Regions from separate parts of the Homo sapiens genome. Here region 2 is linked to region 1. The links come from fine-mapping of genetic effects on gene expression. A gene starts in region 1. The other region holds a variant in brackets. All regions are shown on one strand. Distances are between the middles of the regions.

Evidence for each region. PIP is the estimated chance that this variant, and not a neighbour inherited with it, causes the effect.
Region 2: its variant is fine-mapped to the expression of ZNF710-AS1 in tibial nerve (GTEx, PIP above 0.99). The same link has a PIP of 0.9 or more in fibroblasts.

The regions. Positions count from the first base shown.
Region 1 is chr15:90,077,516-90,086,060 of GRCh38, forward strand. It overlaps ZNF710-AS1 (ZNF710 antisense RNA 1), which reads right to left and starts at 4,692. Exons shown (of 2, transcript NR_146321.1): 1 at 3,924-4,692. It overlaps ZNF710 (zinc finger protein 710), which reads left to right. Exons shown (of 5, transcript NM_198526.4): 5 at 2,145-4,676. The coding sequence ends at 2,314. IDH2 (isocitrate dehydrogenase (NADP(+)) 2) reads right to left here. Exons shown (of 11, transcript NM_002168.4): 8 at 7,760-7,872; 9 at 7,486-7,583; 10 at 7,301-7,393; 11 at 5,530-6,838. The coding sequence ends at 6,751. RefSeq lists enhancers at 6,463-6,963, 6,964-7,464.
Region 2 is chr15:90,098,706-90,107,250 of GRCh38, forward strand. It overlaps IDH2 (isocitrate dehydrogenase (NADP(+)) 2), which reads right to left and starts at 3,763. Exons shown (of 11, transcript NM_002168.4): 1 at 3,571-3,763. The coding sequence starts at 3,685. IDH2-DT (IDH2 divergent transcript) reads left to right here and starts at 3,427. Exons shown (of 3, transcript NR_149130.1): 1 at 3,427-3,673; 2 at 4,675-4,747. RefSeq lists enhancers at 2,189-3,044, 3,045-3,899 and silencers at 2,434-2,483, 2,544-2,633, 3,124-3,193, 3,514-3,973. The variant T/A (reference allele first, on the strand shown) is at 3,884.

The DNA.
Region 1 (8,545 bases):
TTACAGGCATGAGCCACTGCGCCTGGCCCCCAAGGTGCTTTATTTAGCTTGTTTTTGAAACCAGCTGTGTAACATGAGGGTGTGGCACTAGGACTGAGGGAAGAAACAGCCCAAATCTATAAGATATGGGTCAAGTGACCTTGTTTTATAAAGTCCGGAAGACTCACAGTGGGTTAGATGCTACAGGCACAAGTAACAGATACCCATTCAGACTGGCCTAAACAATAAGGAAATCCATTAAGAAATGGCTCAAGACCAGGTGTGGTAGCGCACACCTATCGTCCCAGCTACTCGGGAGGTTGAGTTGGGAGGATCACTTTGAGTTTGAGGCTGCAGTGAGCCATGATTGCACCACTGCACCCCAGCCTTGGCAATAGAGCAAGACCTTGTCAAAAAAAGAAAAGAAATGGGGCCAGGCGCAGTGGCTCACGCCTGTAATCCCAGCACTTTGAGAGGCCGAGGCAGGCGGATCACCTGAGATTGGGAGTTCAAGACCAGCCTGACCAACATGGAGAAACCCCGTCTCTACTAAAAATACAAAAAAAATTAGCCGGGTATGGTGGCGCATGCCTGTAATCTCAGCTACTTGGGAGGCTGAGGCAGGAGAATCGCTTGACCCCAGGAGGTGGAGGTTGTGATGAGCCAAGATTGCACCATTGCACTCCAGCCTGGGCAACAAGAGCGAAACTCGGTCTCAAAAAAAAAAAAAAAAAGAAGAGAAAAGAAATGGTTCAAAGTCTAGGCCCTCTTCAGAGCTGGCTGATTCAGCTTGCCAACAGTGACATCAGGGTGAGGCTTCCTCTGTCCACAGCATTAGCTGCGAATATCCTCATGGTCACAAGATGGCTGCCAGTGGCCGTCAGGGTGTGTGCTTCCTTGTTCACATCCAGTGGAAGAGTGACAGCCTGCTCCCCTTAGCTCTCTGACACCAATGAGAAGGTGCTAAGAACTTACTAGCAGGCCTTTCCTCATGACCCATTCAACAGGATTGGGTCACGTGCCTATTCCTGAACCACTAATTGGGAAGGGATGGGATTACTCTTAGACCAGTGGTTCTCAACTGAGCATGAGTTTGTCTTCCAGGTGACAGTTGGCCATGTTTGGAGACATTTATGGTTGTCACAACTGGGGTGATGCTACTGGCATCTCATGGGTAGAGGCCAGGGATGCTGTCAAACATCCTACAATGCACAGGACAGCCTCACAACAAAGAATTATGGCCCTAAGTGCCAAGGTTGAGAAAGTCTGCCTTAGACCTGTCAGGGCTGCCCCCAGCCTGGGGTCTGTTTCCCCCAAAACACGCACATCTCAGCGGACAGGGCCAGAATGCACTTTGGGGGCCAGCCACAGCCCCTGCCAGCCTCCCAGTTCCCCCAGATCCTACCCTGGGCTTCCCCTGTAAGAGCTTTATAATGAGATTTCAATTTTATAAAATTATAAGGGGCCTCTTAGGAGTTTTTGCCTGACATATCTTTATGAACCTACCCTGAGTGTTTGTCCCTGGAGAGCCAGGCCCAAGGATACCAATGGCTAGAACCAACAGAAAAGCACAGCTGCCGGCAGGAGGCCTCACCCTCCCGCAGTGTGAGGCAGAGCAGCACAGTGGCTCAGAACAACAGCATGTGCTGGGTGACCTTTGGCAAGTTGATTCACCTCTCTAAACCTCAGCCTTCTGAGCTGCTAAATGGGGCTGTTGTGATTGCTGGATGAGGCGAGGCCTGCGAAGTGGCTGGCATGCAGCAGGTGCTAATGAGTGCTGCAAAGGTGATGTCACGCAGGCAGCTTCCCGTGGCCAGAGAAACATTGCAGAGAAGGGATAAGTAGGGCTTAGTGACTTTGACGGGTCAATGGAAGAATGACCCAAAGAAGGCTTCAAGGCCAGGCCTGCAGTTCTCCACCACAAAGGCCCTCACTGATAGCACCCACTCCCCCACACTCAGCTTTGGGGCCTAGGTCTGGTCACCCAGCTAGAAGCCACAGGACCCTGAGGCGTCCGAGGGTGGGAAGGCTGAGAGGCAGCTGAGACTCCTGGAGGCCGTGACTGGGAAGCCCTCTCTTTAGAAAGGCCATCAGCTTCCTGCGTGGGGGTGACTGGCTCCTCCCGAGAGATGGCAGCCAGGTCTGACTGTGCCCCTCTCTTACAGACCCCATGATGGAGCTGACAGGCACTGACCCTTCAGAGCTCGACGGCCAGCAGGAGATGGAGGACTTCGAGGAGAACGCCTACAGCTATGCGAGCGTGGACAGCAGCGCCGAGGCCAGTGTCCTCACTGAACAGGCCATGAAAGAGATGGCCTACTACAATGTGCTATAGCGCAAGCTGGGCCACCCCTAACGGGGGCCGGGGGCGAGGGCATGGGGGTGAGACCCATGGGCTGCAGGCTGCACCTCCTGCAGCCGAGAAACAAGCTACTGCCCCACTGTTCTGAGCCCTCCCTCCCCGAGTCATTTGCACCACTAGGGACCTTTAGACCAAATGGAGACTGTACTACTGGCCCCGGCTGTGAGCCAGCACAGGCCCAGGCATCCCAGCAAGGGAAGGAGAACACGCGAGGCCCAGATCTGGGTCTCCCTGGCCTGCTTCCGTGGGGAGTGGGAGAAGTGGGGCCACTGGGGACAGGTCACAAGGGCACCGGCCCTCGGGGTCTCTCCAGGCCCAGCAGAGCTCTTCAGGGGTCCTGACACTGGAAGAAGAGACCACTTGAGCCATGTCTTTTTCACGGCCAACTCCTGCCTCTAAGGATGTCTGAGCTCCCCTCTGGCCAGTACTGCCCACCTCTACCTTGTCCAGGCCCCCTTCCCCGCCCTGTCGACGGACCGCCAGGCAGGGCACTCTGCCTTCTACCTCCCGGGGTCTCCCATGCGCTCCTCAAGCCAGGTGTGCACGTGGCCCTGGCCCTGGCCTGCAGGACAGCTGGGGGGCACCCAGCCCCCAGAAGACCCCTGTCCTACATCCCTTTCTGGAAGTGAGTGTCCCTACAGTGGATTGCAACACATGTCGTCCACTTCGACCCTAGCTGGAGTGCCTCACCAGGGGGCCCCACTAGGAACAAAGCCAGGACAGGCCCCGCGTCAGGCACACACTAACAAAACCAGAAGCATGGGGCAGGGCAGGGCGGAGTGAGGGCATCACAGGGGACCAAGAAGGGCTGTCCTTGGGGGAGGCCCAGGACCACCTGTCGGGGAGGGGGACCGCAGTCATTTCTCATTCCTCAGTGTCCACCTTGCGACGGGGATAGCCACGAGTCAGCAGCTTCCCGGAAAGAGCAACGTATTTTAAAAAGGAAAGTAAAGCCCACAGAGGGAAATCAAGGGTTTTTTTGAGCAAAGGGGGTCTTCTGAAGGTAACTTATTATTTTTTTCTTTCCAACTGTGTGTCACCTATGACCTTTTCTGATGGAGATGCATTTTCTTTTTCCAAGCGTAAGCTTCCTAATGTGCTGTGCGTGCTTCCTACCCACCCACCCCGAGCAGCCTGGCCGGGCAGGACTGGGGCTCCATGGGGACTGTCACCCTGGCCCTGGAGGTGCAGCCGCTGGCAGCAGCCTCAGCAGGCTGGGGTGGGAGGCAGGAGAAGGCAGAGCTGGGAAGCCCTCCACCCCTGCCTGGCTCCTGCAGTCGCTGACTTGCTCTGTCCCATGTCCCATCCTCGGCTGTCAGGGCTGCTGACTCTGCTCAGCCAACAGCTAGCTCCCTCGCTCGCCTGCTCTCTTCCCCTCTGTTCCCACGCCAGCTCCTGCCCCTGGAACCAGAGATGACAGGCCCAGGGCAGTGAAATAGCACATTCAGGAACTCTAGGGCACCCGGACCCCCCCACCCACTTGCCTCCTGAGGCCTCAGTGGGGAGGGGCAAGCAGGGGTCTTCCCCAAAGGCACAGATGAAGCCACTAGCTTCAGCCTAGAAACCCGGAGAAGGGAACAGCCTGCGGTGGGAGGAACCAATCTGCAGCGCAGCCACCCCCAAGGCTGGATCCTTAAGTGAAGGACCAAGCCAGGCCTCAGGGTGACTGTGATCAGGACTGAGGGGTGGACAAGGTGGCCCAAGTATGGCTTCCAGACCCCGAAGCCCCACGACCTCCCAGGTGCCCGCCATGATGACCCTCAGGTGGCAGTGACCCCGTCACTGTATAAGACATTTTCTCCTGCTGAGCAGAAGGCATCATCCCCTGCAACTACCTCTTCCCACGTCTTTCTCCCCTGGTACCAAAAAGAACCCTGTACCTCTCCTCCTCCTCCTCCCTCCTGCCAGTGCAGTGGCCTTGGTCTTGGAAACTGAAGGGAGAAGGTCTGGCCCCCAGGGTGGGGCTCTCCTTTCCCTCCCCCAGCCCCGCCGTCAGCACTGGCCCTCTGTGAGGTTCGATACTTGAACGCCCCCTGCCCTGTGCCTTGGACCTGGGCAAAGCTAGGAGGAGGAAACAGCACAACTCACAGTTTGAGCTGGGGGGTGGTCTTGGCAAGGCTCCTGTCTGTACCCCTCCCTAACCTTCTCAAAAGAGGTGCACAGCCTCTCGGGTGACTTGGAAACTCCTGGACAAATTCCATTCTAACTTATTTTGACATGTATACAAACCAACTGTTTAGAGATTCCACTTGTGCAAAGCCCTACTGTGTTTTTATGTTCCTGTTTAAAAGAGAAGTTTACTTAGCAATAATTATAAATAAATGAATATTCTTTAGTGAGGTGACTGCAAATGCTTCTTTCCCCAGCTCTTGGGGACCTGGCCCTCACTCCCAGCAGGAACTCCCAGCAAAACTTCCCAGCCCCACACAGCAGGGCTGCACTCTCCCAGGGCCCGGGGGAGGCTGAGACCATCCTCTGCACTGGAATGGCCCCCTGCAGGGCCAGGCGCCTATAGCCAGCTGCCCCGGGCCCAAGAGAGTGGTGTGGGCCACGGCCCCTGTATTCCCACCACTTGCAGAGAAAAGCTGCTTCCCCTCCCTACCCACCCACATGGCTTCAGGAAAGAAGCCAGCTCCCGATGCCAGGCTGGGCTTCAGAGGCTGCGTTCTGCAGAGCTGCCAGCCCCGTGCTGGTGACAGGCAAGAAGAGGCAGGAAGCCTTGAGCTTCCTCCCAGGGGCTGGGCCTGCTAGAGCCAGCAGTCCACGTTTCTTCTTATAGCCCTGAGAGTTTCAGGGCATTACTCAGGAAAAGCAAGCGGGGGGTCACCAGTGTGGATGGAGGGCTAGAGCCCTTCCAAAGCCACTCAGTCTACCGCAATGGTCGGGTTTCAGGAGCCATAGGAGTCCCCCCAGTATTTAGGAAAGGGACTTTGTAAGATGGGGTTTTGAGAGATGGGGTCTCACTCTGTTACTCAGGCTGGAGTACAGTGGTGCAGTCATAGCTCACTACAGCCTCAAACTCCCGGGCTCAAGTGATCCTCCCACCTTGGCCTCCCAAAGTGCTGGGACTATAGGCATGAGCCACCACACCTGGCCAGGACTTTATAAAGATTATACAACTCTTCTCCAGGACATTTTAACACCAAAAAGAAGAAGCTTTGCAGAACTTACTATGCAGAGGACAGTCCTTTTGATTATATGTAGCTTTAGAGCAACTTTTATTTTTCCTTTTTACATGGGGCTAAAAAACTTGCATAGAGCAATTTTTTTTTTTTTTTTTTTTTTTTTTTTTTTGAGACAGAGTCTTGCTCTGTCACCCAGGCTGGAGTGCAGTGGTGCAGTCTCGGCTCACTGCAACCTCTGCCTCCCAGGTTCAAGCCATTTTCCTGCCTCAGCCTCCCGAGTAGCTGGGACTGCAGGTGCGCATCACCACGCCTGGCTAATTTTTGTATTTTGAGTAGAGATGGGGTTTCACCATGTTGGCCAGGCTGGTCTCGAACTCCTGGCCTCAAGTGATCCACCCACCTCAGCCTCCCAAAGTACAGGGATTATAGGCGTGCGCCACTGTGCCCGGCCGAGAACAATTTGTCACAAGCTTACTTTTCTAGTTTTGCCAATGCATGGTGAAAGTGAACCCAAGCCTGGGAACTGCAGGCCTAGACAATGCAGGGCCCTTGTTCACACACACCCAAGCCCCTCCAAACTCAGGCAGCCTTGGAAAGGAGAAGTGTGAGGCAGGTGTGGGTAGGACCTCTTTTTAGTACCTAGAAAAAGGCTAAGAAAGTGGCCTGGAGATGTTTAGAAGGTTAAAACCAACGAAGAAAAAAATCAATGACAACCTATCAGGAACTGATTGACTCTCAGAATGGAGAACTGGACACAGAAACTGGATCATGCTAGAAAATTCCAGGGAACCCACAGGCCTGTGCCCTGAGTGTCCGAGAACTCCGCAGTGGGCCCCTGTGGAATGCGGGCTCCCAGGGCTGCCTGGTCCCTTCCCTGCCGTGGCAGCCCCTTCCTGAGGTGCTCTGGTCTGCCCCAGGGGAACCTGCCAGCTCTAGCAGGGCCTCTGCCTCAGGGTCCCACTACCTCCTCCCCTCAGGGACAAACACAGCAGACAATTTTGTGAAGAGCTTTTTAGTAGCTAAATATGGCACCATGTGTTCCAAGGGCAATATAAATTACAGTATGCAAAACATACTGACTGGCTGAGGTAAAACGCACTGCTCCTGCCTCACGTCACCATGAGGGGAAACACACATATGCTTTTAAAAACATCTGGCTTATAAAAAAACATCCCCTAGAAAGGCCTCCAGAGAGGGGCTGTGAGGCTCACCCTCTGCCGCGCTCAGGAGGACCCGCCGGCTCAGCCCTGGCCCCTCCACTGCAGCCATGGGTGGCGCCTCCCCCTACTGCCTGCCCAGGGCTCTGTCCAGGTTGCTCTTGATGGTGTCGAGGAAGTCCGTGGTGTTCAGGAAGTGCTCGTTCAGCTTCACACTGCAGAGAGAGCACCACTCACATCAGGGGTGGCTCCAGGCCTTGCCAAGGCCATCAGCCAGGCCCTTCCAGGGAACAGCCTGAGCTTGGGCATCAGAACAGCCATCTCCTGCCACCCAGACTACAGGCCAGAGGCCAGCTATAGCCCCCTACCATGAGGCCACCGAGATTCGGCAGGCACCCGCAGGGTCTGTCTTGCCAGGTAACTGCTCTCCTGAGAGAAGCTGGGAAAGGGGTGTGGGCAGGGTCGGAAGGAGCTCTGAGTAGCCAGCCTCAGGGATGGGGAGGAACTCACTAGACCTGGTCTACAGAGGCTGGCCTGAGCAGTCTCTCAGGGCTGTGGACATGTCCTGCCCCAGGCCCCCTTGCAGCTAAGCTGACTCATGAGGGGGACTTTAGGAGGGGTCCCCTGGCTTCCTCCCACATGGCCCCAGGGTCTGCCTACCACCCCAGGCCACGCACTTGCTGAGGCCGTGAATGCAGCCCGCCAGGTCCTTGGTCATGGCTCCACTCTCCACCGTCTCCACGCACACCTTCTCCAGCATCTGGGCAAACCTATGGGGATGGGGCAGAATGAGACCCCATCTGTGCAAGGGCAGGACCCAGAGCCTGTCCTGGGCAGCTCCGGCCTCTCCCTCCATGCTCACCTGATGAGGTCTTGGTTCCCATCCAGCTTCCCCCGGTGCTCCAGGCCACGTGTCCAGGCAAAGATGCTGGCGATGGGGTTGGTGCTGGTGGGCCGGCCCTGGGGACGGGGGTTGCAGGGAGATCAAGAGCCGAGCCAGCTAGTGAGGAGGCTGCCCAGATACAGCTGCCCGCCCCTGGGCTGGTGGGTCAGGCTCGTCCTTCCAGCCCTCAGCCCAGTGGGCTTTAGGCCCCTGGGGTAGAGGGGCATTGTGAGGCCCCATGCCCTGCACTCACCTTCTGGTGCTCCCGATAGTGGCGGGTGACGGTCCCATGAGCGGCCTCAGCCTCAATCGTCTTCCCATCAGGGCAGACCAGGACGGACGTCATCAGGCCAAGGGAGCCAAAGCCTGGAGGGTAGAAAGCCTTTCTCTCAGGGCCTCGCCTCTCCTGGGGCCACCCAGCTGAGCCCTGCTGCCCTCTACAACCCAATATTGTAGCTGCCATAGTTCGTGGCTCTACTCAGCCTCCCCCAGCTGCAACTGGGAGGACAGGGACTGTTCCAGGTCTCTTCACCCTCCTGTGGGTCTCCAGGGCCCAGCACAGGGCTGGAGGGCACTGGAGGGTGGCTATCACCAGCACATTAACATCCATCTGTGTCACCAGCTCCAGGCGCCCCACAGCCTGTGGCCCACAGGGCCCAAGAGGCCACAGAGTCCTGTGGTCCCCCACAGCCTGCCACCCAGCCTGGCTCGTGACCCGGAGGCACATTCAAGGAAAACAATAAAGCTGTGGTCAGCTATTTCCCAACAATCACTTTTGCAGCTACTCTCTTAGGCCACTTTCAAGCTTTTTGATTAATTTCTGAATGCTCCCAAATCCACATGTCAACTCCAGCAAGCTTTTCTATTGTCAAGGACTCCAGGGCTTCAAAGGCACCCCCATGACACCAAAATAAGGATTGAAGAAAGAAAACATGGACAACATCTACAGGAAAATGCTTTGTCTATGAATTCTAAGAATTTTGGCTGTAAGCAATCCCTTCTCCATTTTACCTGCACCTTCACACCATTCCTTAGACAC
Region 2 (8,545 bases), 21 kb after region 1:
GCTAATTTTTGTATTTTTAGTAGAGACCGGGTTTCACCATGGTGGCCAGGCAGGTCTCGAACTCCTGGCCCCAACTGATCCGCCTGCTTCGGCCTCCCAAAGTCCTGGGAGCCACCGCACGCGGCCAGAACAGCCATTTTGGAACAAACTCTAGTAGACTCCTTGGTGTCATCCTTCATTCCTTCCCTTCTCTCACATCCAAACCACCAAAACCAGAAGCCACCCTCAGACAAGCCCACCCTTGCCATAAGTGAGTGCCTGCTGCGTATCTAGATTTTTATGTAAAATCGCCTGAATTGGAACCTTTCCCCACTACTGGCTCCTCCTTCAAAATATATCCAGAATCCAACCACTTCTTCACCATCCCCAGCGCCACCACCCAGGTCCAAGCCATCATCCTCTCTTGCCAGGTCCCTGAAGCTAGAATGCTCCCGATAAGATGGAAATCAGGTAACGATACTCCTCTCAAAACCCTGCAAAGTAAAAGCGAAAGCTCTCAAAAATGGCCTGTGAGCCCTCTACAGACCCCACTGCCGAACCTCATCCTGTCACTCCACCTGGTGCCTGCTGAGCCAGCCTTCGCACCATCCTCTCTGCTCTTCCATCATGCCCTTGGCACCTGCGAGTCCCTCTTCCCCCAATACCGAAAATGGCCTGCTTCCTCCCCTCCTCAGCGATTCCTTCAGTGAGGACTTTTCTGGCTGCCCTATACAAACTTTTGTGCACACACCTTTCTTGCCTGTTTCTCCTTAGCTCTTCTCTTTTTGGGGGGAGAAGGGGGAGGCAGGGTCTTGCTTTGTCACCCAGGCTAGAGTGCAGTGGCACAATTGTACCTCACTGCAGCCTTGACCTCCTGGGCTCAAATGATCCTCCTGAGTAGCTAAGACCACAGACATGCACCATCGTGCCTGGCTAATTTTATTTTTTATTTTTGTAGAGATGGGGTCTCACTATATTGCCCAGGCTGGTCTGGAGCTCCCAGCCTCAAGCAATCCTCCCACCTCAGCCCCCCAAAATTCTGGGATTACAGGTGTAAGCCACAGTGCCTGGCCTTCCTTAGCTCTTGTACCCATATATCATACTAGTCAACATCTATCTTGCTTACTGTCTGCCCCCTCCCACATCAGAATTTGAGCTCCTAAGGGTTTTGAAAGAGTCTCTGCTGGTTTTATTCCCAGCTCTATCCCCAGCACCCGGCATGGTGTCTGGCACAAAGTAGGAGTATACTACTTTTGTCAAAGACATAAATAAAGGTCAAGTTGAAGTCAACTCCATCTGTGGTCAGGGCTGCCCTGCCCTCACCTTCTGTTTCACTGAATGTGTTTCCTCCCCTCTCACCCATCTGGTATGCATTGCCACACAGGGGCCAGTGAGTTCTTACCAGCAGCCTGCACCAGATGTACACGGGTGGCATCTCTCTCCAGCAATAGGCCCCATGCCCTGAAGAAGCTTACAACCTACAGTGTACTAATATTTGCAATCTGCTGGTATTTTTAACATGGGTTTACAGAGTATAAACCCCAGGGAAGGCCACAGACCCTGGCTTCCAGTAATCTGAGAGCAGTTTCCAGCACCTCATACCCTGAATGGAACCAGCCCAAGGGCCCTCAACTTCACACAGAAGATGTGGGAGCAGGCCTCAGCCATTCCAAAGAGGCTTTTCCTCAGTACCTACTAGGCCTAAACACAACCACCCCAATCAGCTCTGGCAGGGCAGCTAGGGCCTTATCTGACGTGGCAGAAAGATCTGCACACTTAAGGGGCAAGAATTAAGAAGTTTCTGGGTTAGGAGTGAAGGAAGGCTAGATAAGTAATTCTGCCACTGAGCCGTTCACAGAACTGGTCCGCACTGCCCCAAGCTCTAACTTACCAGAAACATCACCAGCAGTCGCTGGAAGCCTATGGCGTTGCAAAATAGGAAAAGATGCGTGCAGGAATTACCAGGCAGCAAAGACACGGGGCTCTTTTAGCCCCAAAATATTCTTTCCTTGTCATCAAGGGGAATGCCAAGTATTCTGTCTCCAGCTGCGTTGCCAGGTAACAAGCTGGCAGAGTCGCAACTGTAGAGTCTGATGTCCAACTCCAACACCAAGCAATTTCCCCATTCATAACCAACCCACATGGGGACTTCTAGAAGGGCCTGCAACTGACTGCTTTTTCTGTATCCAAATTCAGGACCCTTAAAAGGCGCTTTGTGTTCCTGTTTGTGTGTGTTTTTCGGGTTGTTTGTTTCTTTTTTTTTTTTTTACCATCAAGGCAGAAAAAAAGGGAGAATTAAAGAATGTGGCTAACTTCCACCATATTTTTGCTGAAGGTGGTGTGCTATATGGGAATCTTTGGGTCCTGGGGCACTTGGAACCTGGGAGTTGTTGGGCAGATCCCTGAGGTAGATTCCCAGAGGTACAAAAGCAGACATGCCCCTTTCTCCTTGGCAGGGAAGGTAGGACTGGGGCCCAAGCCTCCCTACCCCCCCGGCTCTAGTCAGCTGCTCCCACAATCCGGTTAACCATTACCTCCTCTGGCCAGGTCAGGGCCAGCGGGCCCCATCCCCTCTTCCTCACTCTCCTGGCTCACTGCAAGGGGCTCCTGGCCAGATTAGGATAGGGGTTTCCATGGCAACAGGCATTAGGCAGGGCCAAGGGACCTACATTGTTCCCTGCCTTTTGTAGCTGTGTTGGGTAGCCAGGGTGAGGGGGCAGGCCGATGCCCACACGCCAAGCAAGGCAGCCTGCGTTGGCAACGGAGGCTCGGGCTAAGTCTTGCTTATTACGACCCGACTACTGTCTTCCCTCCTAAGCAGGGAACTAAGGGTACCCAGAAGCCGTGGGAACGATTCCGCAAAGTGACATTTTGCGCGGGCTGCCAGGTCTCTGCGGCGAGTGAGCCAGGCAGGGAGGGCATGTGCCTGCCAAGGCAGGTCAAGTCAAGGAGAGGCCCCAGGATGGAGCCTCAAGTGCAGCGATGAAGGCGAAGGGGTGGGGGTGGGGGCGGCCAAACAAAAGGGGAAAATTAAAAAGGACGCTCCTCCAGCTGTCGTGTAAAAGGCTCCAAAAATAGCTGACGTGGGCCTGGTATCAGCGCGCGCCTGGCTGAAAAGGAAGGGGAAGTGCATGTCTCCCGCCTCCCAGCCTTTGTCTGAGCAGGGGCCGAGCCACGACCCTCCCTCTCGCCAGGGGAGCGCGCGGGGTGCTCCAGCCCCCCACGGGTGCTCGTCTCGTTCCAGGGGCGCAGGGCGGGCAGGCCACCCTTCGGGTCCGGGACACTCTCAGGACCCCCTCCCGAAATACCTAGGGGCGCGCGGCAGCCCCGAGCCCCCGCCCGCGCAGAGCTGGCCGTCGCCCGGGCCACCAGTTGCCACCGTCCCTCAAGTCCCCACCCCAGCGCCTGGCACGGCCGGGAAGCGCCGGGCGGGGGAGCGCGGAGCGAAGCTGCCCCGCGGCCCTTTGTGCGCCTGACCCCGCCGTCCCCGGGCTGCGGGCTGGCGGGACGTGCTTCCCGGCCCCAGCCTGGGAAGCCGCCACGTCGCAGCTGGGGGCGCGCGCCTGCCTGGACCCTCCGCGCGGCACTCACAGTGGCGCCGCGGCTGCTCTTGCGAGGTGGGGGCTGTCAGGGCCGCCGGCGCCCAGGCCGGCCGCGAGCCTGAGGCTCTGCAGAGCGAGCGCACGACCCGCAGGTAGCCGGCCATCCCAAGCTGGAGAGCGAACGAGCAGGGCGGGAGAGGTCCGAGCGCGCGCCGCTCCTCCCGGCTGCCTGGCCGCGGGCTAACGCTGGGCCTGGCGGGCGCTGGCCGCGCGGGCACCACCGGGGCGGGGCTGCCGGGCCTGCCGCCCCATTGGGCCTTGCCGGGGAGGAGGCGGGGCCAGGGCCGCCGACGCCTCCAGCG[T/A]CCCGCGGGAGCCGGGACCCGGCGGCCAGGCCCGGCTGGTGCTTCTCTGGGCGCCGCTGAAAGCCCAGCTCCGCAGGAGCTACAGGCGTGAGACCCACCGGGACCCGCGAGCGGGATCAGGGCTGGGGGATTAGCAGAGCCGCTTGCGAGGCTGACCCTCTCCAGGATGCCCCATGTAAACCTGGATGTCAGTTTCTGACGCTTTAGCTTAAACCCAAAAGCCAATCTGAGCGAACTCTTGCTTCCCTCGCCTGCCGGGCTGAACCCAAAGGCGCATTAGCCCAGTGCGGCTGCTTCATTCTTGAGCTAAGACCGCCGGCGGCGTCTGCGCCTCCGCGAGTCCGCTGTCAGGTCCAGCTGGTGTAGAGAGAGTTGAAATCTCACTTTGGGCCGGGCGCGGTGGCTCACGTCTGTAATCCTAGAACTTTTGGGAGGTCGAGGCAGGCGGATCACTTGAAGTCAGGAGTTCGAGACCAGGCTGGCTAACATAATGAAACCCCTGTCTCTACTAAAAATACAAAAATTGATCGGGCATGGTGGCGCGCGCCTGTAATCCCAGCTACTCAGGAGGCTGAGGCGGGAGAATCACTTGAACCTGAGAGGCAGAGATTGCAGTGAGCTGAGATCATGCCACTGCACTCCAGCCTGGGCAACAGAGTGAGACTCCGTCTCAAAAAAAAAAAAAAAAAACCACGAAAAAAGAAATATGATTGGACCAGAAGGCCAATAACCTGAGTGGGGAAACCCAGCAAGTCCTGTCCGTGTAGATTCTTCTTGACCTTTCTCTGCAGCATTCCTTCCTTCTGAGTACGGGGCAGGACTCTCTCTGGGATGGAGGGGTCTTAGGACCTGCAAGCAAACAAGGTAGGTCAGATAATTTATGGCCAGTTTTTACCCAGAAATGTGTGGGAGAAAGAGTAATATTTTTGGGTTCGATGTCTGGCTTTGGGGGAGAAGGGCTCTGGTTTCTATGACCTGCCTTGAGGAAGAAGGATTCCAGTTTCTATGGCTGGCCTCGGAGGAGAGTGAGGGGCCAAAGACAGGAGGGAGGGAGAGGGTCAGAGAGAGCTGCTCCTGAGGCCTGCATTTTGGGGTGTTGTTTTCTGAGACCCTAGAGTAGTCAAACAGCCACAGTAGAAACAGTTCCATTTTTGCCTGTTTGCATATAAAAGATGGGTTTGTTTGTTTGTTTTAATTAAAAATAGAGATGGGGGGATCTCACTATGTTGCCCAGGCTGGTCTCCAGCTCCTAAGCTTAAATGATCCTCCCGCCTCGGCCTCGCAAAGCACTGGGATTACAGGTGTGAGCCACTGCACCTGGCCACAAAAGACAGTTGTAATTGATTCTGCCACAAACAAAGTTTCTCTCTTCATCTGTTTTCTTAAACTAAGACACCAGCTGAGGGCTGGGTTTTATTTGGAAAAACCTGACCTCTTTCCCTTCTCTGCTTTCCCAGTCACGCTAATTCACTCCAAATAGGAGCAACCTTTCTCTTCTGTGTTCTCAGCCCTCCCCTCCACTACCTCACAGTCAACATTGCCAGGTGGAGCTGGACCAGGAAGGTGACCTTCAACTAGTGACTTCAAAGCTCCCCTCACCAAGTCCTAGCCGGCAGAACTACTACTCTGGCCATGGGATCCAGAAGGCTGAGCCCAAGGGAGGGCTGCTTTTGGGCCCCCCAGAGTCTGAGGCCTCTGTCAAAGGCCTGGTCTTGGGCCAGCTTGTGCCAGAAAGACCCCTTATCCCTTTGACTCTGTTCAGAATTCTGTTGCTCCAAACACAAGTAGAGACCATGGAAGCCTCTGGCATTTGACTTTCCTGCCAACCTGGTATTATCAGGTGCCTGGATCTCAATGTCCACACCTGTAAACTGGAAGACTGGACCCCTGAAGATCCTTCTGGTCCAAACAATCAGACTTACGTATGTCAGCCACCCATACTGCCACCTCTGAAATGGCGGTAATGAAATTGCTGTCCCCCTCCCCCCACCAAGGACTTGCCCCTTTCTCTGCATGTTGGACTCATATCTCAGAGGCCTGGCCAGAGGCAGCACTGTAGGTGTGTTCCAGAGTCTGGTCTTTGCCTGCTGAGGGATCAGAGGGGGAGCACTTGTGTGCCTTGTAAGCACAGCAGCAGCTGGAGGCAATTGAGGCAAAATCTTTAAACGGATTCTAACTACCTGCCTCCCAGGGCCCCAGCTCCACGCCAGCCTTTCCCGTAAATCCTGTTTGGTGAGGCAGCTGATGCCAGCTCCATTTGGCTCGTAGAGGTTACCACACTTGCTCAATGTCACACTGCTGGGAAGCAGTAAAACTCCAGTTCAAATCAACATACCTGGCCCATATTCCATTACTGTTTTTTTGTTTTTTCCGAGACAGGGTCTCACTCTGTTGCCCAGGCTGGAGTGCAATGGTATGATCATGGCTCCCTGAAGCCTCGACCTCCCGGGCTCAAGTGATCCTCCCACCTTAGCCTCCTCAGTAGCTTGGACAACAAGAACATGCAACCATGCCCGGCTAATTTTTTTTCTGTTACTTTTTGAAGGAGAAAGAGGGAGAAACCACAGCCCCTATTTATTGTGCTGGTCTGGAATTCCTGGTGATGGTAACTATTGGCCCTGAAAGCTGCTGCAGAGAAAGATGGTGTTTAAAGGAAAGGGGCTCAGATCCTCCCATCTGGGGTCAGTGGAATTGAAAATTTCCACCCCTCCACATTTTCAATCAAACCCCAATTTGTCATTGAATTTAGGTCACGTGCAAGTTCCCTGTGGAGGCACAAAAATTTGTATCACTCCGTCCCCACCCTCTGGGAGCCAGACACACATGTATACAATCACCATAAACCCAGGCACAAGAGAAAAATGTCTGCTGGGCGTGGTGGCTCACACCTGTAATCCCAGCACTTTGGGAGGTCAAGGCAAACTCCTTGAGCTCAGGAGTTTGAGACCAGCTTGGTCAGCAGAGTGAGACCTTAATCTCTATTTTAAAAAAAAAAAAGAAAGAAAGTGTCCCAAGAGGAGTGTAGATGACGCTTGAAACATCTGGCAAGGAGAAAAGCACCTCGGATGCAGGGGCCCCTGGAGAGCCTGGGGGAGGAGCGTCCATCTAGCTGCCTCTTCAAAGAGCTCTGAGGTCTGGGGGGAGGCCGGACAGGACAGCTGGGAGCAGTCAGGGACTCACATTTCTTTTTCTTTTTTCTTTGGAGACAGAGTCTTGCTCTGTTGCCCAGGCTGGTATGCAATGGTGGGACTCGGCTCACTGCAACCTCTGCCTCCGAGGTTCAAGCAATTCTCCTGTCTCAGCCTCTCAAGTAGCTGGGATTACAGGTACGCACCACCATGCCCAGCTAATTTTTGTATTTTGAGTAGAGATGGGGGTTTCACCATGTTGGCCAGGCTGGTCTTGAACTCCTGACTTCAGGTGATCAGCCCACCTCGGCCTCCCAAAGTGCTAGGATTACAGGCATGAGCCACCACGCCCAGGCTCTTTTATTTTATTTTATTTTATTTTATTTTATTTTATTTTATTTTTGAGATGGAGTCTTGCTCTGTTGCCCAGGCTGGAGTGCAGCAGTGTGATCTCAGCTCAGGGCAACCTCTGCCTCCGAGGTTCAAGTGATTCTCTTGCTTCAGTCTCCCAAGTAGCTGGAATTACAGGCACAAGCCACCGCACCAGTCTTTTTCTTTCTTTCTTTCGAGACAGGGTCTCACTCTTTGCCCAGGTTGGAGTGCAGTGGTGCAGTGGTGCAGTGGTGCAATCTCAGCTCACCGCAGCCTCGACCTCCCAGGCCCAAGCAATCCTCCCTCCTCAGCTTCCCGAGTAGCTGGGACTACAGGTGCATGCCTGGCTAATTTTTGCATTTTTTGTAGAGACAGGGTTTCAGCATGTTTCCCAGGCTGTTCTGGAACTCCTGGGCTCAAGTGATCCTCCCACCTTGGCCTCCCAAAGTGCTGGCATTACAGGAGTGAATCCCGCGGGGACTCACATTTCATCCAGCCAACATTCCAGGGCATTCGTTTTGTGGTGTGCAATAGGCAGACAGTAACATTTGGCAACAGTGGTGAGAGGGTATTGGGATAGAGCCTGGGGAAGGGAGACAAGAGTTCCTGAGCTAGGGACAGGCCTGACACAGGGTGCTGGCGGAACCCCCAAGAGAGGCAGGACTCCAGAGATGGTATAGAGGAGATAGAATCAGCAGGAATTGTAGCTGGTTTGACATGGGGCATGGCCGGGGGAGGAGTCAGAGTGACTCAGACTTCCATCCCTGGGGCTGGAAGAATGGCACAGCCATTATTAGAAATCAGAGAATAGGAGGAGGAGAGAGTTGTGGGAGAGGCGTTGACAGCAGAGCTATTTATGGTCATCTCCAAACTTATTTCCCTGCCAGCTGTCTGTGCCCCCTCCCCCACCCAATCTGCCCTACCTGCTGCTTCCAGCACTGTCCTCCCAAAGCCCAGTCCTGAGCAGCTACTCCACAGCTCAGATACCCACAGGAGCTTCCCACGCCATACACAAGCAACTCTGAACAGCTTCTAACAGTCCATGGCCTCCACCTCCCTCTCTTCTCGTCTGCTATTTCCCCCTCCCCAGGATCCCTAAATGTAGCATTCTCCTGAATTGTCACTGCCTCGGTGCCCTCGCGTTGTCCCCTCCCTCCACCAC